Regions from separate parts of the Homo sapiens genome. Here all the other regions are linked to region 3. Evidence: fine-mapped expression QTL. A gene starts in region 3. Each other region holds a variant in brackets. All regions are shown on one strand. Distances are from middle to middle.

Region 1 (4,089 bases), 460 kb before region 3:
CTCACATAAAAAAGGAAAGGTAAAACAAAACAAAAAACAAAAACCAAGAGACAAAGCAATCAACAGAGCAGTCTACAAGAATTAGAGTGGATCCAGATGCTGGAACTACCAGAGAGAGAACTTCAATCAACTATGATTAAACATGTTATAGGTTCACTGGAAAAGGTATAGACAACACACACAGATTGATAATTTTAGCAGACAAAATAAAAATATAAAATAAAAATGAAAATGTTAGAAACAAAAGACGTAGTAATAGAGATGAGGAATGTCTCTGACATGCTCATTGGCAGACTCAACACAACTGAGTTAAGATCAAGGAAATTAAACATAGGACAATAAAATTACCAAAGAGAAAGAGGAAAAGAGTTAAATAAGAAAAATGAAGGAACTGAATGGTATATTAAGATGCAACTAAAAAGGGAGTTAGTAAACTGGGAAGATAAATCCAGAAGACTTACTCAACATACAGCACAAAGTCATCATGAAGAGGTAAAAAATAAGAAAGCTAAGAGGAAAGGTTGAAAAAAAAAATGTCAAGAAGATGATAGAACAAGACAATATTTAAGGAAAAAAAGAATTTTTGATGCCCAAAGCAGTCCAAAAAATCCAAAAGAGGATAATGAAAAACTACGATACCAAATTACAGAGAAAATATAAACAGAAGACTTTTAATGCAGCCAGAAAGAAAAAAGAGATCAGGAAGGCAATTAATGTCTGACTCCTCAAAATACGATGAATGTAAAAAAATAGAATGTATTAATTGTGTTAATAAAAATAATTCTCCTCCTAAAGTTGTATTAATGGCAAAACAATCCTCCAAGAATGAAGAAAAATAAAGTTATTTTCAGACAAAAAAGAAAAAATACCTGAGAGACTTAACAGAAGATCTTCAGGAAAGAATTTTTAATGGGTGTACTTTAAACATAATACAAGTGTTACTATTAGGACGGTCTCATATATAAGAAAGAACTAAAAGCAAAAAATATTAAATACGTGGTTAAATAGGAATAAATAATGATTTACAGAATACATAAAGCTAAAATACTGGACAATAGGAATTACATCTGGATACTAGCATTAAATTCTTATCAGTTTAGCTACTTATTAGCCTCAGGTGTTTTTAAATAGGTTTTCTTTTTTTGAGACATAATCTCACCCTGTTGCCCAGGCTGGAGTGCAGTGGCACAATCTTGGCTCGCTGCAACCTCCACCTCCCGGGTTCAAGTGATTCTCCAGCCTCAGCCTCCCAAGTAGCTGGGATTAGAGGCGCCTACCACACCTGGCTAATTTTTGTATTTTCAGTAGAGACGGGGTTTCACCATGTTGGCCAGGCTGGTCTCGCACTCCTGATCTCAGGTGATCCACCCGCCTTGGCCTCCCGAAGTGCTGGGATTACAGGAGGGAGCCACTGTGCCTGGCCTAAGTAGGAATTTAAAAATAGTCAGAATTAGCACTAAAAGAAGAGACCAAACACCATTTCTACAAGAATATGGTGGGGAGGAGAGGAAGGAAAAAAGAACTTAAAATAAAGGAGGGAAAATAAAAAAAAGAGGGGAAAAAACAAGAACAAATAAAAAGCACATAATGTGGTGAAAGTAAATTCAAACCTATCAGCAATCACAATGAATACAAATAGAAAAGTCTTTCCAGGTAAAAAAGAATCTCATGTCAAATATAGAAAAAGAAGAAACAGACCCCAAGTATTAAGGTTCACAGAATCCTGATATTTTTGAGAGAAGCCCAATAATTTTAAATATTTCTCTGCTTCCTAGTGAAGGAAATCCCAATCTAATAAATTTCTTGGTATCCACATCTGCTATAAATCATTAACTTAACGAAGGTTTGTTATCCTTTTAGAGGGGAAATGGTACCTACTCATTATCATCAAAATCTGAGCTCTATAACCACTAGGAATGCTTTAACTACTTGGATATCGCTGCTTCTAAACTTTTGCAATGAACAACCCTAGGAAACACATTTTTTTTCTTAAGGTGAAATAATTTGGTAAATA[C/T]TTTTAAGAAAAAAATAGTCGTGTCAATGCTGACATTTCCTACTGACATTTTAGACTGGAGTTTTTCTTAACATCTTTAATTTTACACAACTCTTATGCTAAAATAAAAATCTTGATTACTAATGACATTTATTTATGCATCTATTAGTTATATTAACTATAATTATAAATTTCAATTATTTCCAATTAAATGTATCATACAGAATTTTTCATAATATACACATAAATATTACCTATACATATATAATTGCTTTAAATTAACAAAATCAACATTACCACTAACATCCTGGTTACATCATCTTGGATACTAATATTTATATATGTATAGATTTATGTATATGTGTTATGTTAAATTAATTATAATTAGTTACATATAACGTGCGTCTATATACACACATATACAGCCATGTGCACTTAACGATAAGGATACGTTCTGAGAAACTAGTTGTTAGGCAATTTCGTCATTGTGTGAACATCATAGAGTGCACTTACACATAGACAGTATAGCCTACTACTTATCTAGGCTATATAGTATGGCCTATTGGTCGTAAGCTACCAACCTGTAAAGCATGTTACTGTACTGAACACCATAGGCAATTATAACACAATGTTAAGTATCTGTGTATCGAAACACAGAAAAGGTACAGTAAAAATACAGTATTATAATTTTATGGAACCATTGTCATACATGTGATCAGTCATAACCAGCAGTGCAGGACTGTATGGAAAACTGTAAAAAGACCACTAGTAGGCTGGGCTCAGTGGCTCACGCCTGTAATCCCAGCACTTCGGGAGGCCGAGGTGGGTGGATCACCTGAGGTCAGGAGTTTGAGGCTAGCCTGACCAACATGGTGAAACTCATCTCTACTAAAAATACAAAAATTAGCTGGGAGTGGTGGTGTGTGCCTGTAATCTCAGCTACTCGGGAGGCTGAGGTTGCAGTGAGCCGAGATCATGCCACTGCACTCCAGCCTGGGCAACAGATCAAGACTCTGTCTCAAAAATAATAATAAGAAGAAGAAAAGACCACTAGTAACACCAACAATGAGACAACTGGCTCCTAGTAACACCAACAATGAGACATACTACATTAGGAATGTACAGTTAAAATACTGTGTCTTAAAGTCACCAGAAATAATAATTCTTCATGGAATTATACCAAAATTTTACATATATTAAAATCACTTATTTTGTTTTTTGGGGGGAAGAGTAAATTTTTTCTCCTTTTGAATTGCTTTTAGTACATAAAAAGATTTACATGGCTCCCCTAAAATTGCTCTTCTTTCTCAGGTTTCTTCTAGTTCTCCTTGCTTTTTTTATTCTTTTAAATGGCACAAAATGCAAAACACAAAATAAACACTATACTTGATGGCATATTTCACTGGGATTTCATTATATTCATAAGGTAAACTAACAAAAAGTAATATCCTTACTATGGTAACTCCATACCTAAGAACATGGTATCTCTTTTTTTGTTCAAGTTTAATTTTTTTATTTCAGGGGTATTTAAACACATTATTTCTGCACATTTGTTAAGTTTAATCTTAAGTGTTTTGTTTGTTGGTTTTATAGACGGGAGTCTATGTTGCCCAGGCTGGAGTGCAGTGGCTATTCACAGACAGGAATAATTGGGACTGCAGACGTGTGTCACAACACCCAGCTTAAGTACTTCTCATACAGTTTTTGTAAATATATTCTTCTTCCCTTATGTGACATATGTTACAGATCAATTCCTTTATCCCCATTTTTAAAATATCCTGGGATTATGATGGGGACTGCACTAAATTTTAGACAAATTTTGAGATAATTTGTATCTTAAAAATATTGTCTCAACTGATTTAAAAAGATCTAAAAACAACTTTTTAAGGTTTTCTGTGTAAAGGTCTCCTACAACTTTTTTCAGATTTAATCTGATGTATATAGATGGTTTTGATGTTTATAAATGGTACGTTTATAAAATTCAATTTTCTACTTGCTTGTAAGGAAAAATACAATTGATTTTTATGTATGAACGAGTATCCAACGACCTTGTTGAAATGACATAAATTTCAAAAGTTCACACTTAGGTAATTTGG
Region 2 (4,089 bases), 440 kb before region 3:
TAGAAAATTCTAAGGAATCTACAAATATAAACTACTAGATCTAATAAAAGATTATATCAAGGTCACAGGATATAAGATCAATATGCAAAAACCAACTGTATTTCTATATACTAGCAATGAATAATATGAAAATGAAATTAAGATACAATTCCATTCATAATCCTATTAAGAAGAATAAAATATTTGGAAATGATTTAACAAAAGTGTAAGACTTATACACTGAAAAATACAAAATATTGCTGAAAGAAATAAAAGATAAATATATGCAGAAGCAAGCCATGTTCATAGGCTGGAAACACAATATAGTTAAGACTGCAATTCTCCCCAAATTAATCTATAGATTCAAATCATTTCCTATCAAAACCCCAACAGGCTTTACGGTATAAATTGACAAGCAAATCCTTAAATGTATATGAATATACAAAAACCTAAAATAGCCAAAGCCATTATAAAAACGAACAAAGTTGTAAGACTTACTGGATTTGAAGTTACAATAAAGCTACAATAATCAAGACAGTCAGGATTGGTACCAAGACAGAAAAATAGTTAAAGGAGACAGAACAAATGGTACAGAAAACAAACACACATATTTATGGTTAACTGATTTTCAACAAAGGTACCAAGGCAATTCAATGGGGAAAAAAACAGCCTTTTCAATAAACCATGCTAGGTAAAATGAATATGCAAATATCCATATGCAAAAATATATATATACAAACAAAACAAAAAATTAACTCACAATGGATCACAGACCAAAATGTAAGAACTAAATTTTAAAACTTTTAGAAAAAACTGTAAGATGAAATAATCGTGAGGTTGAAGATTTCTTAGCTATGACACCAAAAGCTCTATTCTCAAAAATAAACCTTAAAGTAGATATCATCAATATTAAAGTTTTATGCTTCAAAAGACACTATTAAGAAGTCACAGACTGGCTGGGCACGGTGGCACACGCCTGTAATCCCAGCACTTTGGGAGGCTGAGGTGGGCAGATCACTTGAGGTCAGGAGTTTGAGGCCAGCCTGGCCAACGTGGTGCAACCCCCATCTCTACTAAAAATAGAAAAATTAGCCAGGCGTAGTAGTGGGCATTTGCAATCCCAGCTACTTGGGAGGCTGAGGCAGGAGAATTGCTTGACCCCGGGAGGCAGAGGTTGCAGTGAGCTGAGATCACACCACTGTACTCCAACCTGCGGAGCAGAGCAAGACTCTGTCTCAAAAAAAAAAAAAAAAAAAAAAAAAAAAGCCAGAGACTGAGAGAAATTATATGAAAACTACATATATGACATAGAACTTGGATCCAAAATAGATACATTCTTACAATTTGATAAGACAGTACAATTTAAAAATGGAGAAAATGTCTGAATAGACATTTCACCAAAGAAGATACAGGAATGTCTAGTAAGCACATAAAAAGACCCCCTACATCACTCATCACTACTGAACTACAAATTAACATCACAGTAAGACACTGTTAAATATACACCAGAATGGCAAATAATATAAAAGACTGTCAATACCAAGTGGTGGTCAGAATGTAAAATGGTACAGTCATTTTATAAACAATTTGGTCTTTTCCCAAGAAGTTAAACATGTACTTACATAACACAGCAATTCTACTCCTGCATATCTATAATAAAGAAGTGAAAACACATGGCCATATAAAGACTTTTATGTAAATTTTGATAGAAGCATTTTTGTGACAGCCCCAAATTAAAACTAAAATTTTCAATTTTTAAAATCTTCTGAATGGATAGACAAAATGCAGTATCAACAATTTAAAAAATGGACATGCTAGAATTGATATGTGCTAAAACATGGGTGAGCTATAAAAACATTATGCTAAATGAAAAAAACTAGATTAAAAAACTATACAACATATTCCATTTACATAAAATAGCAGAAAATTAAATTTTAAGTAAAATACTCTCTCTATATGTAAAATACTCTCTCTCCAGAAAGCCAAACAGTGGTTGTCTGATGAAGAAGGTGTGGAAAGTAGAGATTACAGAGGGGCAACCAGATAAAGGTCATCTATGAAAAATTTAGAGCTAAGATTACAGTTGGTGAAAAACTGAATGAACGCTTCCAACTCCCCACGTCTTCATCCCCAACTACTTTTTTTTTTTTTTTTTTTTGAGAGGGAGTCTGGTTCTGTCATCCAGGCTGGAATGCAGTGGCGCAATCTCCACTCACTGCAACCTCCGCCTCCCAGGTTCAAGCAATTCTCGTGCCTCAGCCTCCCAAGTAGGTGGCTTGGGTACATGCCACCACACCGGGTTAATTTTTGTATTTTTAGTAGAGCCAGGATTTCACCACGTTGGCCAGGTTGGTCTCAAACTCCCAACTTCAGGTGATCCACCCGCCTTGGCCTCCCAAAATGCTGCGATTACAGGTGTAAGCCACCATGCCCCGCCCCCAACTACTTTTTATTAATAGATTGACAACAAGGATGTTTGCTCCACTCTGTCACAACAATGTACTATAGTTTTCCCCTAGTACAACAAG[G/T]AAAAAGAAATAAAAGGCATTCAGATCAAAATAAGATCTGAATTCAAAAATTCTTATTCAAAAATAAGAAATGAAGCTGTTTATTCACAGATGACAAGATCACTTACGTACAAAAATACTAAAAAAATATAAAACAGCAATTAGAATAAGTGATTTAATAAGGTTGCAAGATGTAAGATCAGCATATACAATATCTCTACACTGAAAACTGCAAAACATCATTGAGAGAAATTAAAGACCTAAATAAATGGAGTGATGTACCTCATTCATGGTTTAAAAGAATCAACTATTAAGATGTTCACTTCTCCCTAAACTGGTTTATAGATTCAGTGCATTCCCAATCAAAACCTCAGCAGGTGTTTTTGTTTTTAATTAACAAACTGATGCTAGAAATCATACGGAACTGCAAAGAACATATGAAAACAAATAACCAAAACAATTTTTACGAAGTTGGAGGATCCATACTGGTAAGTCCTCTGAGCTGGCCACACCATGGTCAAGCCATCGTGACATTCCCGCCACCACCGCCCCCAGCCTGTGATAATGTACCCTTGTGAATGTACTTTGTAACATTCCTCCCCGCCCTTGTGAATGTTACTTTGTAACATCCTCCCAGCCCTTGAGAATGTACTTTGTAATATCCATCCCCTGCCTGCAAAAAATTGCTCCTAACACCACCGCCTATCTCAAACCTATAAGAACCTATGATAATCCCACCACCTTTCACTGACTCCTTTCTTGGACTCAGCCCACTTGAACCCAAGTGAATAAACAGCTTTGTTGCTCAAACTAAGCCTGCTCAGGTGGTCACTTATATGGACGTGCGTAACATTTGGTGCCGAACACCCAGGACAGGGGAACTCCTTCGGGAGACCGGTCCCCTGTCCTCACGCTCCCTCCGTGAGGAGATCCACCTATGACCCTGGGTCATCAGACCAGCCAGTCCAAGGACCATCTCACCAATTTCAAATCGGTAAGCGGTTCTTCACACTCGGGTAAGCGGTTTTTTCGCTCTCTACCTAACCTCTCTCGCCTCCCTTCAATCTCTCTCCTTTCAATTTCAGTTTCTCTCCCTTCCAGGTAGAGACAAAAAGGAGACACACTTTATCTGAGCATTTAAAAACTCTGACGTCGGTTACTGACTTGGGAAGACACATCTTCCCTTGGTGTCTGATCACCACAGGGACGCCTGCCTTGATCATTCACCCACATTCCCTTGGTGGCAGGTCAACTGTGGAGATGCCTGCTTTGGCTGATCATGCCTGCTTTGGCTGCTCACCCACATTACAGCCCAAGACTCAGTCAGGGACGCCTACTGGAAGCCTGGTAGCTGCCCATCTCCATTTCTCCATGTCTCTACCTTCGTCCTTAAATTTACCTTCTCCACTATGGGCAACCTTCCGCCATCCATTCCTCCCTCTTCCCCCTTAGCCTGTGTTCTTAAAAACCTAAAACCCCTTCAACTAACACCTGACCTAAAACCTAAATGTCTTATTTTCTTCTGTAATACCACTTGGCCCCAATACAAACTCGACAATAGTTCCAAGTGGCCAGAGAAATGGCACTTTCGATTTGTCTTCTT
Region 3 (4,089 bases):
CTGTGGAAGCAGCCACTACCTGCCCCAAGAATCGCTCCTGCTTGACGGTTCTGAGGCCCTGTATAGTCTCTCAGTGAGGCAGATTCCCCAGTTTCCCATTAGAGGAGGGAGCTGACCACTTTAGGAAATGCTCCACAAGGAAACAGGACTCCACTTTGAGTCAGTGCCAGCTAACCCTGCTCACAGACAAGGACCCCACAGGGTGAGGGACTTTTTCTCACAGGCTGCTGATGACCCCGGTCACAAGTGGTCTTGCAGCCCCTAGACACCTCCCTGCAGCCACAGAAGATCAAGTCTTCAGAGAGCTGACCTTGGACCCATGGTTGGGTGGGGCCTCCTGAGGGTAGGGCAAAGGGGTCCTGGCAGTGGGGAGAGGCTCTGAGACCATCCATCACTCAGGCATTAAATGGTGGCTGTTACGACCACCATCACCATTATTTTAATTATCCTTGCCCTTTACCTCCAACCCCAGCTCTAGCCCTGCCCTTGTCTGCTGGATGTGCCTCAGGACCAGAGTGCCCCTGCACAGCCAGTCACAGACACTGGCAGACAGAAGGAGCTTAGGGAGCTGAGGGGATTAGGGAGGCTTCACTCACTCTCCCAGCTCAGGGGAAGTGTCCCTGTGGCCTAACTTAAGGAAATGGTGGGGGTGAAGGAAGTGATTACTAGGCCCACCAACCCTCCAGGTTCAGGCCTGATCCAGCCAAGCACTTAGCATTGGTTGATCAATTAAAACCTCGAATGGAATCCCAGTCTGCCAAATATCCATGTGACACTAGGCAAGTCAATTGACCTCTGAACTCAGTAAAAAAAGGGATGGTGCCACCGACCTCCTAGGGTTTTCCATGAATATTAAATAACACGTACAAAGCCTCAGGTAAAGATTTCAAGAGGGTCAACTTCCTCCCCTTCCTTGGCTCAGAAAAAGCTTTATTACCACTTCTGATGGTGCTGTTTGAATGTGAGATAATAATAAACACTAACATTCATAGAGCATTTGCTGTGGCCTAGGACAGGTTTAAGGCCAATTTAAGGATCAAGCACTGCACACAAATTATCAGGCTGAATCTGCACATGGGGGTTGGGGTGGAGGTGGAGATCCTTTAGTGGTATTATACTCTGGAGGACCCCAGGCTCAGAGAGGGGAAGTAGCCGGTGCAGGTGGTAGAACTGGCAGATAAAAGGGCCTGTGGTGAGACTCCAGGTGTGGGTGTATGGGGGGTTGAGGGAGGTAAGCGCGGAGGCGGGATCGAGCAGGGGTCCTTGTAGCCGCCTAAGAAGTGCAGTGGTGAAGCTGACTCCTGTGAGGTGGAGGGGAGGGGTCTGGAAACAGTGGAGACACAGCAGCCCTGGGCAGAGCAGAGGAGCCAGGTGAACCCTACCTTACAGAAATCTTGTACTCTGGCTGAAGGACGGGCAGGGAGGGGTCGTGAGGAAGCCCCTCGCCGGGATCAGGAAGCCTAGGTCAGTCCGGGTTACATAGCTGACCTGCTGTGGGACCTCGGGGACCAACACCCTCGGTTTCTGGTCCCAGGAGATGGACAAGGACGCAATGTCTGTTCCTGGCCTTGGCTCAGGGCCTAATCTGATCCGCGGATGGTCCTTGCCATCAGGGAAGGGGGACGCAAGAACTCGGCGGGGGTTTGTGGTGGGGTCGCAGAGAGCAAGCCCTATATCTCCCTCCGCAGACCCAGGTGCTCCCCAAACCCGGCCCGGAGCCCGCGAGAACTGGGGGCGGAGGGTGTACTTAGGCGGCCCTGGGGACCTTGACGGGACAGCTCAGCAGCAGGGGATGGGGGCTCGGCGGCCGCGGAGATGTAACACCTCCACCTCGGGCGAAGACCTCATAGCCTGCGGGAGATGGGAGTCCGGGACGCGGACAGGACGGGCACTTACCTACGAATAGCCAGAGGGAGCCCCCCGACACGAGGAAGAAGGTCAGCATGGCGGTCAGCGGGGCCCGGCCCGGCCCGGCCCGGCCTCCCCGACCCGCAGCCCCGCAGCCCCGCAGCCCAGCAGCCCCAGCAGTAGCCGCGCCGCCGCCGCCGCTGCCGGGTATTTTTAGCCCCCGCCCTCCGGCCCCGCAGCTCCCGCCTCCCCGCGCCGCTGCGGAGACGGCTCAAGGGGGAGGGCGCGGCGCGCACTCGCAACCGAGCCTTACTCCCTGCCCTGCAGCCTGGCCGGCCGGGTCTGGGGCTTGCCCCGCACTGACCGCGGTGTCGGAACCGCCAAGCTCCCGGGCGGGGGAGGGGCCCGGCCGCAGAGCGAACCAGCCCTCTCCGGCCCCGCTCTCCAACGTCAGTACCTGGCATTCTGCGGAAACCGGCTGGAAGGGGGAGCACGGGCGACGAGCGCCAGAGCGTGACATTGAGCCCACCCCGCCGCCACCCACCCCATCAACACGCGACCCTGCCCCCGCGCGACTCGCAGCCTGGGTTTTATGGCTGGGCAGGCTCGAATGGCAGCCGGGTCGCGGTTACCTGTCCTAGGAGGTGCACACTCCTGTGGGCTGTTGCCCGCTGACACCAACGCCCCCTAGGACCCGAGTTTGCAGACATGGGGAGCCTCCGGGTGCCACCTCTGCAAACCAGTGAGGGGAGGGAGTGGCAAGTGTTCACCTAGGCTCTGACAAATCAGGCAGCTAGACCAGATAGTGCCCAGATCATCTGGGGACGCACGAGTTCAGGTCTGAGGCTACGCAAGGTCACAGGAGACTCAGTGTGATCACAGGCTGCCATATGTGTTCACCAGTAGTAACATGGTCACAGGCAGCCACATGGAATCACAGGTGTCTCATGAGGAAATCATGATCTTCGTACACAACTGTATGTGGCACACGAGGTCTCAAGAAGCCCCTCATAGCCACAATAAATGGCCATATAGCCACACACAGCCACAGATGCCCACACTGCTGGGCTGAGGGCTTGGACACCTGTTGCAGTGTCTGCCATTGAAAGGAGGAAGCCCAGTTGCACATTTTCTGAAATAATAAGGGTAGGCATCCTGGTGGGCACCCCATGAACATCTGCACCTCCAAGCAAGATCACCTCTTCCCAATGCCCTTGCTTGTTTTCCTCAAGCATGCAGAGCCCACCAGGACTCCAGCACCGAGGACAGCGCTCAGGCAGCCGGGCCTTCTCTATACGCAGCCCTCCCAGGCCAGGAGCTGGCTGAGCCACAGCCCAGAAAGAAGAGGATAGAAAACCAGAGAGCAGAAGTCAGGAAGCAGAGAGTGGAAGAGCATGAGATCTCTTCAGGCCCACCAGAGACCATCAGCCATGAGTGCATGTGGGCTCACAGCTCAGCAGCTGGGTGTGTGGGGGGGCCTGTATCTGTAGTACGAGTACATGGCATGTGTGTGCCCAGGCCTGTGTGCACCTTGTAGTGGTGCAAGTGTGCAGATGTGTGCCTCTGAGTCACTTCCAATCTTTACAATAGGATCCTACACCTTCTCCATCATAGGATCTGGACTCCTGGGAGAGCTGCTCCAGCTTGAACTCAGCCACAGCCTGGCAGGGACTTTGCTGGGATCTCAAGCTTGGCAGGGCTCCTCCAAGAGGGTGTGACAGAGGCTGTATGGCAGGACTCCTCCCAGCAAGTAACATGGCTTTGAGAATCCCCCCACCCCACCCATACACTCCCACTGGCAGCAGAGTAACTGGAGATCTGCTAGTACTGAAGAGGAGACCCAGGGGAACCAGAAGCCTGGGCAGAAAGAACATATCTCCCCAGACCAGATTGGTCTAGGGAGGTGGTCAGGTAATTTCCCCATAGGCCAGTGGTTCAACAGAGCATTTCTTCACAGAGCAGGGGGCCAGGAGCCAGGCTGCAAGCCTCAGGCCTCTGCGGCACTCAGCTGCAGGAGCACTCCGGGCCCTATGCGGCTCTGGCAGCCTCCTCTTCAGAGTGATGTCATGGGACACATTTAGCTTGGCCTCCAGCAGGATGTCGCATCCCGTTACTCTCCCTACAGATGTCTCTGCTACTTGTGAATATTTTAATTCAAAAACCAGTACTGGAGCTGTGACTGATTCTAGCTTAGCCAAGTATTTTTCTGTTTTCCTCTGAGCATGGCTTGGCTTCCCCTGA
Region 4 (4,089 bases), 110 kb before region 3:
CATTCTCCTTATATGCACATGGCAAACACTGATCACAAAGTCAGGTACAAAAGAATCTTCAGCAAATTTCAAAAGAAATGAAATCATACCAACCACTCTCTCAGACCACAGAGCAATAAAAATAGAAATAACTGCTAAGAAAATTGCTCAAAATCATACAATTATTGAACTAATTTACACTCCCACCAATAGTGTAAAAGTATTAAAGACAGTGTGGCGATTCCTCAAGGATCTAGAATCAGAACTACTATTTGATCCAGCAATCCCATTATTGGGTATATACCCAAAGGATTATAAATCATACTACTATAAAGACACATGCACACGTATGCTTATTGCAGCACTGTTCACAATAGCAAAGACTTGGAACCAACCCAAATGCCCATCAATGATAGGCTGGATTAAGAAAATGTGGCACATATACACCATGGAATACTATGCAGCCATAAAAAATGATGAGTTCATGTCCTTTGCAGGGACATGGATGAAGCTGGAAACCATCATTCTCAGCAAACTGACACAGAAACAGAAAACCAAACACCACATGTTCTCATTTATAAGTTGAACAATGAGAACACATGGACACAGGGAGGGGAACATCACACACCAGGGCCTGTCGGGGGGTTGGAGGATAGGGGAGGAATAGCATTAGGAGACATACCTAATGTAGGTGAAGGGTTGATGGGTGCAGCAAACCACCACGTGTATACCTATGTAACAAACCTGCACGTTCTGCACATGTATCCCAGAACTTAAAGTATAATTTTTAAAGAAGTGAAAAAAACCCCATACAATTAAATGGAAATTTTAAAAACCTGCTCCTGAACGACTTCTGGGTAAATAATGAAATTAAGGCACAAATCAATAACTTTTTTGAAACTAATGAGGAAGAAGATACAACATACCAGACTCTCTGGGACATAGCCAAAGCAATGTAAGAGGGAAGTTTATAGCACTAAAAGCTCACATCAAAAAGTCAGAAATAACTCAAATTAACAACCTAATACCGCAACTAGAGGAACTAGAAAAACAAGAGCAAATCAACCCCAAAGCTACCAGAAGACAATAAATAACCAAAATCAGACTAAAGGAAACTAAGATGAAAAAAAACATACAAAACATCAATGAATCAGGGGCTACTTCTCTAAAAGAATTAATCTGATAGACCACTAGCTAGATTAAGAAAAGAAAGAGAAGAGCCAAATAAACACAATTAGAAATGACAAAGGAGACATTACCACTGACCCCACAGAAATACAAAAAACTCTCAGAGACTATTATAAACACCTCTATGCACACAAGCTAGAAAACCTAGAAGAAATGGATAAACACACAGACCAATAGAGAAACAAAATAGAGAACCCAAACATAACCACCAGATCTTTGACAAATCTACCAAAACAAGCAATGGGGAAAGGACCATTCCATAAATGGTGCTGGGATAACTGGCCAGCCATATGCAGAAGACTGAAACTGGAGATCCCTTCCTTACACCATAAACAGAAATTAACTCAAGATGGATTAAAGACGTATATCTAAGACTCAAAACTATCAAAACCCTGGAAAATAACCTAGGAAATACCACTCTGGACAAAGGACATGGCAAAGACTTCATAACAATGACGCCAAAAGAAATTGCTATGAGAGCAAAAATGACAAATGGGACCCAATTAAACTAAAGAGCTTCTGCACAGCAAAAGAAACTATCAACAGAATCAATAATCTACAGAATGGGAGAAAATATTTGCTAACTATACATCTCACAAAGGTCTAATATCAGAATCTATAAGGAATTTAAACAAATTTATAAGCAAAGAACCATTCCATTAAAAAGTGGGCAAAGGACATGAACAGACACTCTTCAAAAGAAGACATACACACGACCGACAAACATGCAAAAATGCTCAACATCACTAATCATTAGAGAAATGCAAATCAAAACCACAATGATACCATCTCACACTAGTCAGAATGACTATTATTAAAAAGTAAAAAAGTAACAGATACTGACAAAGTTGCAGAGAAAACAGAATGCTTATATACTGTTAGTGGGAGTGTAAATTATTTCAACCATTGTGGAAAGCAGTGTGGTAATTCCTCGAACAGCTAAAAACAGAACTACCATTTGACCCAGCAATCCCATTATTGGGTATATACCCTAAGGAATATAACT[T/TA]ATTCTACCATAAAGACACATACAAGCACATATTTATCACAGCATTATTCACAATAGCAAAGACATGGAATCAACCTAAATGTTCATCAATGGTAGACTAGAGAAAAAAAATGTGGTACATATACACCATGGAATGCCATGCAGTCATACAAAAGAATAAGAATATGTCCTCAGCAGTAACGCAGATAAATCTGGAGGCCATTATTCTAAGCAAACTAATACAGGAACAGAAAACCAAATACTGCACAGTCTCACTTATAAGTGGGACCTAAACATTGGGTATATATGGACAGAAAGAAGGAACAACAGACACTGGGGCCTACTTGAGGGTGAGAGGAGGGTGACTATTGAAAAAGTACCTATCAGGTACTATGCTTATTACATAGATGAAGAAATAATCTGCACACCAAACTACTGTAACAGACACACAATTTATCTACATAACAAATTAGATATGTTTACACCTGAATCTAAAATAAAAGATAAAAAATAACGAGGAATTTTGGAAACTAACAAACACATGAAAATTAAACAATATGCTCCTGAATGACTAGTGAGTCAATGAAGAATTAAGAAGGAAACTGAAAATATTCTTGAAACAAATCATAATGGAAATACAACATACCAAAACCTACAGGCTACAGTGAAAGCAGTACTAACAGGGAAATTTACAGTTACAAATGCTTATATCAAAAAGAATAAAAACTTCAAATAAACAACCTAACAATGCATCTAAAAGAACTAAAAAAGAGCAAACCAAACCCAAAATTAGTAGAAAAAAAAGATCAGAGCAGAAACAAATGAATTCGAAAACAATACAAAAAAGCAATGAAACAAAAAATTGGTTTCTTGTAAAAAAAAAACTGACAAACCTGTAGCCAGACTAAGAAACAAGAGAGAAAACCCAATTAAATAAAATCAGAGATGAAAAGGGAGACATTACAACTGATACTGCAGACATTCAAAGGATCATTAGTATCTACTATGAGCAACTACATGCCAGTAGACATATGCAATCTAGTATGACTGAACCATGAAGCAACCCAAAACCTTGAGCCGGGCAGGTGGCTCACGCCTGTAATCCCAGCACTTTGGGAGGCCAAGGTGGGCGGATCACGAAGTCAGGAGTTCGAGACCAGCCTGACCAACATGGTGAAACCCCATCTCTACTAAAAATACAAAAATTAGCCGGGCGTGGTGGCATGCGCCTGTAATCCCAGCTACTCAGGAGGCTGAGGCAAGAGAGTCACTTGAACCCGGGAGTCAGAGGTTGCAGTGAGCTGAGATTGTGCCACTGCACTCCAACCTGGGCAACAGAGTGAGACTCCGTCTCAAAATAAATAAATAAATAAATCCAAAACCTGAACAGGACAATACAAGTAACAAGATTGAAGCTATAATAAAAAGTCTCCTGGTAAAGAAAATTCCAGGACCTAGTGACTTCACTGTTGAATTCTACCAAATATTTAAAGAAGTACTAATACCAATCCTACTCAAACTGTTCCAAAAAATAGAGGATGAAGGAATACTGACAAACTCATTCAATGCTATCAGTATTACCCTGATACAAAAACCAGACAAAGACATATCAAAAAAAGAAAACTATAGGCCAATATCTCTGAAGAATACTGATGTAAAAATCCTCAACAAAATAGCAAACTGAATTCAACAACATATTAAACAGATCATTCTTCCAGACCAAGTGAGATTTACCCCAGGGACGCAAGGATGGTTCAACCTATGCAAATCAATCAATATGATACATCATATCAACAGAATAAAGGAAAAAAACCATATGATCATTTAAATTATGCTAGAAAATCGTGATAAAATTCAACATCCGTTCATGATAAAAATTCTCAAAACAGTAGGTACGGAAGGAACATACCTCAATATAATAAAAGCCAATATATGAC
Region 5 (4,089 bases), 410 kb before region 3:
TAGCACTCGAAAGTGTTTTTATAAATATAATCATAATGATATATGATAACCAGGACAGATAGCCAGCCCATTTTTCAGAAGAAAAAAACAAGGTTCAGAAAGTTTATGGGTTTTCTCCACAGGAGCTTAGGCCAAATCAAGATTCCTGCTCCTTTCACTTGTATAATACAACACTATAATACAACATACCATACCCAGCTGAAGCATTTGGCATAATAAATATCAACACAAACTACAAAAAGATAACAGGAGTTTTGTCTTTACTAACTAGCACAACCTCAACACTGTGTTTTGCTTTAGGTACTTATTTTCATTTAATCCTTGAAATACTTCAACAAAGATACTATCATTACCCCTATTTTATTGAAGACAAAACCACAGTTAAAGGTTAGTTCTGACTTAAGGTCCCATGGCTAAGAAAAACTGAATAAGAAAAACAAATTCAGTTTTTATTGTCAGTGTTTTTCCCCAACTCCAAAATCACCCCTACCAAAATATAAACTCCAGGAAACCAGGGATCTAATCTATAATGCATATACCAAGGGCTTAAAACAATAAGGAATATAAAGGTGCTTAACAAATATTTGGTGAATAAATGAATGAATGGCTATACAGCGTGTGCTCTTAAATACAGAACGACACTTACCTAAGCTGATGTTCCCTGAGATTTGATAATATTTCCATTCCATGAAGATAAGAATAAATAGTATTTAAGTCCTGTGGAACAGAAGAAAAAAATTAGATTATTTTTCAAATATGCTGTTTAAAATATAAGGCACCCCACAATTCTGATTTTAAGCAAACAACCACTTATGGCAAAGCAGTTAACTATGGAAAAATCATAAAACCTCTGAATCATAAAAGATTTGAAAAGGCAGAGAAGAGATCCCTCAGCTCTCAAAGGAACTCCTCTTCAACGTGACCAATGGCCTCTATTCATTCAAACAATGCCAGAACCCCAAATTCATTATTTTATATGAAAGTATATTAATTCATTATTTCACTTCTAAGCAGATGTAAACTTTCCTTCTTTAGTGGCCTCCAAATATTTGATATCCAATATCCTGGCTGACATCTCTAGAGATGACCCAGTTTATCAATATTCCTCTTAAAATATGACTTTCTAAAGAATTTCTTTCTAAAGAGACTCAAAATGACATAATCTACCACTAAATAAAAAAGATTTCCAATGGTACAATCCTATTGTTCACTCTGTGAAAGAGGTAGAACATCTTTCTCTATTCCTCACCCAGATAACTAGGCATTAAAACAACAACAACAACAAAAACCTCAAGATGACATAGTATAACCTCAACTAAGAGCAGTGGCATAGCAGAAGAAAGTGGAAAGAGTCTATAGATCCCTAACAGCAAATAGTATTGTACCACTGATGTCATTTAAGATTAAAAGCAGACAAGCTACGAGCTGATGGGTGCAGCACACCAACATGGCACATGTATACATATGTAACTAACCTGCACGTTGTGCATATGTACCCTAAAACTTAAAGTATAATAAAAAATAAATAAATAAAAAATAAAAAGCAGACAAGCTTAAATTCGCTATAAAAAACATACTTCCTATTTCCTATGAGGAATAATGCCTTTATACCAGGGCAAACTACTTCCAAACACTGCCTTCCCACTCTGATATACAACTGGCCAAGAAAATTATCAGATAGTAGTGGGGGTACTGGGGGAGAAACTAAAGACAACTTGTTTTCTAGTAGGTTAATAAGACAACACGGAGCCATTAAGAAAAGCAGCAAGCTAGGCTGGTCACGGTGGCTCACGCCTGTAATCCCAACACTTTGGGAGGTCGAGGCGGGCGGA[A/T]CATGAGGTCAGGAGATCAAGACCAACCTGGCTAACACAGTGAAACTCCATCTCTACTAAAAATACAAAAAATTAGCCGGGTATGGTGGCAGGTGCCTGTAGTCCCAGCTACTCGGGAGGCTAAGGCAGGAGAATGGCGTGAACCCGGCAGGCGGAGCTTGCAGTGAGCTGAGATTGTGCCACTGCACTCTAGCCTGGGTGACAGAGTGAGACTCCATCTCAAAAAAAAAAAAAAAAAAAAAAAAGAAAAAGAAAAGAAAAGAAAAGCATCAAGCTGAGCACAGTGGCTCTCGCCTGTAATCCCAGCACTGTATGAGGCCAAGGTGGGTGGATCACTTGAGCCCAGGAGTTAGAGACCAGCCTGGGCAACATGGTGAAACTTGCCTCTACAAAAAATAATTTAAAAAAATTAGCCAGGCTTGTGGTACACATCTGTAGTCCCAGCTACTTAGGAAGCTGAGGTGTGAGGGATGGCTTGAGCCTGGGAAGAAGTTGCAGTGAGCCGAGATCGCACCACTGCACTCCAGTCTAGGCGATTGAGACTCCATCTCAAGGGAAAAAAAAAAAAAAAAAAGGCAATAATCTCTAATTCCAAAGATAACAACTGTCAATTAACCACAGTGAATTGAACAACCACATTTATTTCTGCTAAATCCTTACTAAAGTAACAGTGAAAAAGATATTTAAGTATATAAAAATAAAGATTTGAATAGGTTAAAAGAAAGGTCTACCAAATTTTAGCAGATAGCAGATGAAGCACTGATATGGTAAACTGTATTTCCAAAGATGGCCACAGAGGTATTTCTTATCCCATATGCTCTTTTGCAATGCAGTCTTGCCAGTTACCCATCAAAACCTGGAATCTATGTGCCCTCCCCACAGATGTGGGTTGGCTCTGTGACTTGTTCTGACCAAAAGAATACGATAGAAGTGAGGTTGTATAAAAGATTCAAGCACCCTGAGACCACTAATGTTGTGAGGAAGCTCCAGCTAGCCTTAGGGAGGCAGAAAGGCCACATGGAATAACACCAAGGTACTAGATATGTAAGTTATGCCTTCCTAGAGCAGCTTAGAGCTACCAATTGAATGGAACTAAAAGAATGATCCCAATTGAGGCTCTACGGGGTAAAAGCACCAACCACTCAGCCAGAACCTGCTGAATGTAGGTAATAAAGAGAGTCATGGCAAAAGTGTGGCTCACAGTGGGTCCACTGAGTCTGCAGATCCACCTAATAATGGTCATTCCCCACTCCCTCAGTTTATAATTAGAATTTATATACTTGGCAGTTAGAATACCCTAAATAATGGGTCCATGACCTGTGTGGTAAAAGCCGTCACAATGGAAAAAGCCAAGTGGAAACCTCTGCCCCATTCCCCAGAACAAGACAGTAAATAAAAGACTATTTCTTCCAGAGGGGCACAGAATAAAGACTAGTGCCACCAGTAAAGACTCAGAAGTACGCAGAGGTAATAGTTTCTATTGTATTCTATTTAATTTATGGAGAAAGCAGACAGATCCTAAAAAATGACTGTGCAGACTACCACAGAATGAACCAAATTCTAGCCCTAATCACAGCCTGCAGTCTCAGCCATAATATTGCTGCTGAAGCTGATTAAGCCTCAAATACTGATGTGGTGTTACTTTCCATTACTTTACTTTCCATTCCAATTAGAAGATCAGAAAAAAATCTGCATCCATGCAAGGCAATATTAACTTACAGTTTTATCTTAGGACTCTTAACTCTTCCGCTCTCTGTCATAACACAGTCAGTGGGGGTTGGGTGGGGGACAGACATCTAAACCTCCTGATCTATTTACATATATTACATCATGCTGATTGGACAGAATGAATAAAAGAATAGGCTAGAGGTGACTGGTACCCTTAGAGTCCTTGGTAACACACATGCGGCTCCAGAAAATGGGAGATAAACACTATGAAGACTCAAAAGATATGCCATTTCAGTGAAGTTTTTCGGGATACAGTGGTTGGGGGCACGTCAGGACACCTCCTGCAATGTCGAAGTGACTTTGGCTTTAGGTCAAGATAAAATAAAAGAAACTAGACTTACTCTTCACCTAAAACAACTAAAAACAACAACAAAAAAGACAAATATATAAAACGTTTTTCATAAGATAGGACATCCGGAAATATCTAAAGTGAAGTAAAGATCCACCTGAAAAAATCATTGTAGTAGTCCTGAACTAAGACTGATTCTTCCCATCTTGGTGATATTTAGCAACGTCTGGAGTTATTTTA
Region 6 (4,089 bases), 420 kb before region 3:
AGGCAGCCTCTCCTATCACAGGCCCAGAGGCCAACCAAAAATGATTCATGGGCTGGGCCCAGGACCCTGCTACTCTGTGTAGCCTCAGGACATGGTACCCTGCATCCCAGCTGCTCCAGCTCCATCTGGGGGCAGATTTACCGCATGCTGTTCTCATGATAGTGAGCTCTCACAAGATTTGCTAGTTTAAAACTGTGTGGCCAAAAGGGGCCAACAGTATAGCTCAAGCCATTGAATCAGAGGCTGCAAGCCTCAAGCCTTGGCGGCTTCCACATGGTGTTGGGCCTGCGGGTACGCAGAGGTCAAAAGTTGAGGTTTGGGAATCTCTGCCCAGATTTCAGAGGATGTATGGAAATGCCTGGATGTCCAGGAAGAAGTGTGCTGTAGAGGCAGAGCCCTCATGGAGAACCTCCACTAGGGCAGTGCAGAGGGAAAATGTGGGGTTGGAGCCCCCACACAGAGTCCCCACTGGGGCACTATCTAGTGGAGCTGCGAAAAGGGGGCCATTGTCCTTCAGACCCCAGAATGGTAGAACCACAGTTTGCACTAGGAGCCTAGAAAAGCCACAGGCACTCAACGCCAGCCCATGAAGGTAGCCACAGGGGCTGTACCCTGCAGAGCCACAGGGGCAGAGCTGCTCAAGGCCTTGGGAGCCCACCACTTGCCTCAGGGTGCCCTGGATGTGAGACATGGAGTCAACGGAGGTTATTTGGAAGCTTTAAGATTTAATGACTGCCCTGCTGGGTTTCGGACTAGCATGGGACCTGTAGCCCCTTTATTTTGGCCAATTTCTACCATTTGGAACAGGAGCATTTACCCCATGCCTGTATCTCCATTGTATTTTGGAAGTAACTTGTTTTTGATTTTACAGGCTCATAGGTGGAAGGGACTTCCCATGTCTCAGATGAGACTTTGGACTTGGACTTTTAAGTTAATGCTGGATTGAGTTAAGACTTTGGGGGACTGCTGGGAAGGCATGATTGGTTTTCAAATGTGAGAAGGACATGAGATTTGGGAGGGGCCAGTGGTGGAATAATATGGTTTGGCTCTATGTCCCCACTCAAATCTCATGTTGAATTGTAATCCTCATGTGTCAGGGGAGGGACCTGGTGGGAGGCGACTGGATCATGGGGACAGATTTTCCCCCATGCTGTTCTCATGACAGTGAGTTCCACAAGATCTGATGGTTTAAGTGTGGCATTTCCCCCCATCGCATTCTCTCTCTGTCTCCTGCTCACCGTGGTAAGGAGTGCTTGTTTCCCCTTCACCTTCTGCTGTGATTGTAAGTTTCCTAAGACCTCCCACTCATGCTTCCTGTGAAGCCTGTGGAACTGTGAGTAAATTAAACCTCTTTTCTTCACAAATTACCCAGTCTCAGGTAGTTCTTTATGACAGCGTGAGAATGGAGTAATACAGAGACCAAAGTTAATTTGCTATCAGCTTAAAATAGTGCATTATAACAAGAGTCTTTATGCTAGCTCTATAGTAAACATAAAGTAAGTACAGCAGATACACAAAGGAGAAAGAGAAAGGAAACAAAGTATAGCACCACAGTGAGCCACAAAACCACAGAGATGAACAAGAGAGAAAGAAGGCTACAGAAAAAAAAATCTATAAAACAACCAGAAAACCATTAACACAAAGGCAGGAATAAATCCTTACCTATAAATAACAGCCTTGAATGTAACTGGGTAAGCTCCTCCAATTAATAGATATAGAATGGCTGAATGGATAATAAAACCCAAATGTATGCTGCGTATAACAGACTCACCTCACTGTTAAA[G/GACAA]ACATAGATTGAAAGTTAAGGGACAGAGGTTGGGTGCAGTGGCTTATGCCTGTAATCCTAGCACTTTGGGAGGCTGAGACAGGCAGATCACTTGAGGTCAGGAGTTCAAGACCAGCCTGGCCAACATGGCGAAACCCTGTCTCTACTAAAAAATACAAAAATTAGCTGGGTGTGGTGGTACGCGCCTGTAATACCAGCTACTTGGGAGGCTGAAGCACAAGAATCGCTTGAACACAGGAGGCAGAGGGTGCAGTGAGCCAAGGTCGCACCACTGTGCTCCACCCTGGGGAGCAGTGCGAGACTCCATCATATAAAAAAAAAAAAAAAAGTTAAAGGATAGAAAAAGACATCCATGCAAATGGAAAGCCAAAGCAAACAGGAGTAGCCATGCTTACTTTAAGTCAAAAACTGTAAAAAGAGACAGAAAAGGTGATTATATAATGATAAAGGGATCAATTCAACAGGAAGATATAACAATTACATTATTTATAATATATATTATATAATCATTATATAATATATATTTGTGTCTCATATATATATTTACAGTATATATTAACACACACACCCCAAACACTGGAGTGCCCAAGCTTGTAAAGCAAATATCATTAGATATAAAGGGAGAGACAGACTATAATAGAGTAATAGCAGGGAATGCAAATACCCTACTTTCAGCAATGGACAGATCGATAGACCTCAAAATATACTACAAAGCTACTGCAACCAAAAAAGCATGGTACTGACATAAAAACAGACCAATAGAGCAGAATGGATATCCCAGAATTAAACAGACAACTGATTTTCAAAAAAGGTGCCAAAGACACTTAGAAAATGTATATCTCCTTGCAGAAGAATAAGACTAAACTCCTACCTCTCACTATATACAAAAATCAACTCAAAATGGATTAAAGACTTAAATGTGAAACCTGAAACCACGAAATCTACTGGAAGAAAATAGGGGAAAATGCTATACAACACTGTGCTAGGCAAGGATTTTTAAAGCGAAGACCTCAAAACACAGGCAACAGAAACAAAAACAGATAAATCTGATTACATCAAACTAAAAAGTTTTTGCGCAGCAAAGGAAACAACTGACAAAATGAATAGACAACCTACAGAAATAGGAGAGAATTGCAAACTATACCTCTGACAATGGGTTAATATCCAGAATATATAAAAAACTTAATAGCAAAAAAAAACTGATTAAAAATGGGCAAAATAGCTCAACAGACATTTCTGAAAAGACATAAAAATAGCCAATAGGTATATAAAAAAATATTCAAATAAACTAATCATCAGGGAAATGCAAACTCAAATCACAACAAGACACCACTTCATTCCAGTGAGAATGGCTACCATCAAAAAGACGAAAACAAGTGTTGGCGAGGATTTCAGGAGAAGGGAACACTTATACACTGTTGGTGGGAACGTAAATTAGTAGTTATTATGGAAAACAATATGGAGGTTACTAAAAAAAAAAAAAATGGAACTTCTAGGTAATCCTGCAATCCTACTACTGGATACATATCCAAAGGAAATGAAATCAGTATGTTACAGAAATATCTGCACTCCCATATTTTACAATAGCCAAAATACAGACTCAACCCAAGTGTCCAACAATGAATGAACAGATAAAGAAAATGGGGTATATATACTCAATAGAGTATCATTCAGCCATGAAAAGAATGAAATCCTGTCATTTGCAGCAATATGGATGGAACTGGAGGATATTATGTTAAGTGAAATAAGACAGACATAGAGAGGCAAATACTGCAGAATATCACTTATACGTGGAATCTAAAAAATAAAAAGTTGATACCATAGAAGTGGAGTAGAACTGTGGTTACCAGAGACTGGAGTGGGGAGGTGGGAGAGAAAGATGAGGAGAGGTTGGGTAGTGGGTACAAAGTTACAACAAAATAAGAAAAATAAATTCTGGTGTTCCATTGCACAGTAGGATTATTATGGTTAACAGTAAAGTACTGTATATTACAAAATAGCTAGAAGAGAGGCTTTTGAATGTTTTCACCACCAAAAAATGATTAAATGTATGAGGTGATGGATATGCTAACTACCCTAATTTGTATATTATATAACACATAACTGTATTGGAATACCAACTTGTACTCCATAAATATACACAACTATAATGTGTCGATTAAAAAGTTAAAAAAAGTATCAACATTGCTGGAAATGAGACCAAATAACCTAAAACCAACAGAAAAAAAACCTGCTATATTTATTACGTTCAAGAAAAAAGGAAAACAGATGATGGATTCAACCAAAGAACTGGTATCTATGAAACA

Which allele goes with the higher level. Alleles are on the strand shown, and positions count from the first base shown. SD is a standard deviation of normalised expression in the study named. Not every link is listed here.
For the expression in esophagus muscle of the gene that starts at base 2,050 in region 3, T is the low allele of the variant in region 4 and TA is the other (moderate effect, 0.67 SD a copy in GTEx).

Evidence for each region. PIP is the estimated chance that this variant, and not a neighbour inherited with it, causes the effect.
Region 1: its variant is the best candidate, but not a certain one, in a credible set for the expression of ACSL6 in whole blood (TOPMed, PIP 0.81).
Region 2: its variant is the best candidate, but not a certain one, in a credible set for the expression of ACSL6 in whole blood (TOPMed, PIP 0.65).
Region 4: its variant is the best candidate, but not a certain one, in a credible set for the expression of ACSL6 in esophagus muscle (GTEx, PIP 0.77).
Region 5: its variant is the best candidate, but not a certain one, in a credible set for the expression of ACSL6 in whole blood (INTERVAL, PIP 0.50).
Region 6: its variant is the best candidate, but not a certain one, in a credible set for the expression of ACSL6 in sigmoid colon (GTEx, PIP 0.57).

What each region holds. Positions count from the first base shown.
Region 1 is chr5:131,553,394-131,557,482 of GRCh38, forward strand. All of the region lies in intron 5 of RAPGEF6 (Rap guanine nucleotide exchange factor 6), which reads right to left. Among named protein-coding and RNA genes, the nearest start is that of RAPGEF6, 80 kb to the right of the region's middle. The variant C/T (reference allele first, on the strand shown) is at 2,015.
Region 2 is chr5:131,568,826-131,572,914 of GRCh38, forward strand. All of the region lies in intron 4 of RAPGEF6 (Rap guanine nucleotide exchange factor 6), which reads right to left. Among named protein-coding and RNA genes, the nearest start is that of RAPGEF6, 64 kb to the right of the region's middle. The variant G/T (reference allele first, on the strand shown) is at 2,508.
Region 3 is chr5:132,009,609-132,013,697 of GRCh38, forward strand. It overlaps ACSL6 (acyl-CoA synthetase long chain family member 6), which reads right to left and starts at 2,050. Exons shown (of 21, transcript NM_001009185.3): 1 at 1,897-2,050. The coding sequence starts at 1,945. LOC124901062 (a long non-coding RNA gene) reads left to right here and starts at 1,848. Exons shown (of 2, transcript XR_007058933.1): 1 at 1,848-1,937.
Region 4 is chr5:131,904,366-131,908,454 of GRCh38, forward strand. All of the region lies in intron 8 of MEIKIN (meiotic kinetochore factor), which reads right to left. Among named protein-coding and RNA genes, the nearest start is that of MEIKIN, 39 kb to the right of the region's middle. The variant T/TA (reference allele first, on the strand shown) is at 2,174.
Region 5 is chr5:131,603,977-131,608,065 of GRCh38, forward strand. It overlaps RAPGEF6 (Rap guanine nucleotide exchange factor 6), which reads right to left. Exons shown (of 28, transcript NM_016340.6): 2 at 647-717. Among named protein-coding and RNA genes, the nearest start is that of RAPGEF6, 29 kb to the right of the region's middle. The variant A/T (reference allele first, on the strand shown) is at 1,833.
Region 6 is chr5:131,594,061-131,598,149 of GRCh38, forward strand. All of the region lies in intron 3 of RAPGEF6 (Rap guanine nucleotide exchange factor 6), which reads right to left. Among named protein-coding and RNA genes, the nearest start is that of RAPGEF6, 39 kb to the right of the region's middle. The variant G/GACAA (reference allele first, on the strand shown) is at 1,784.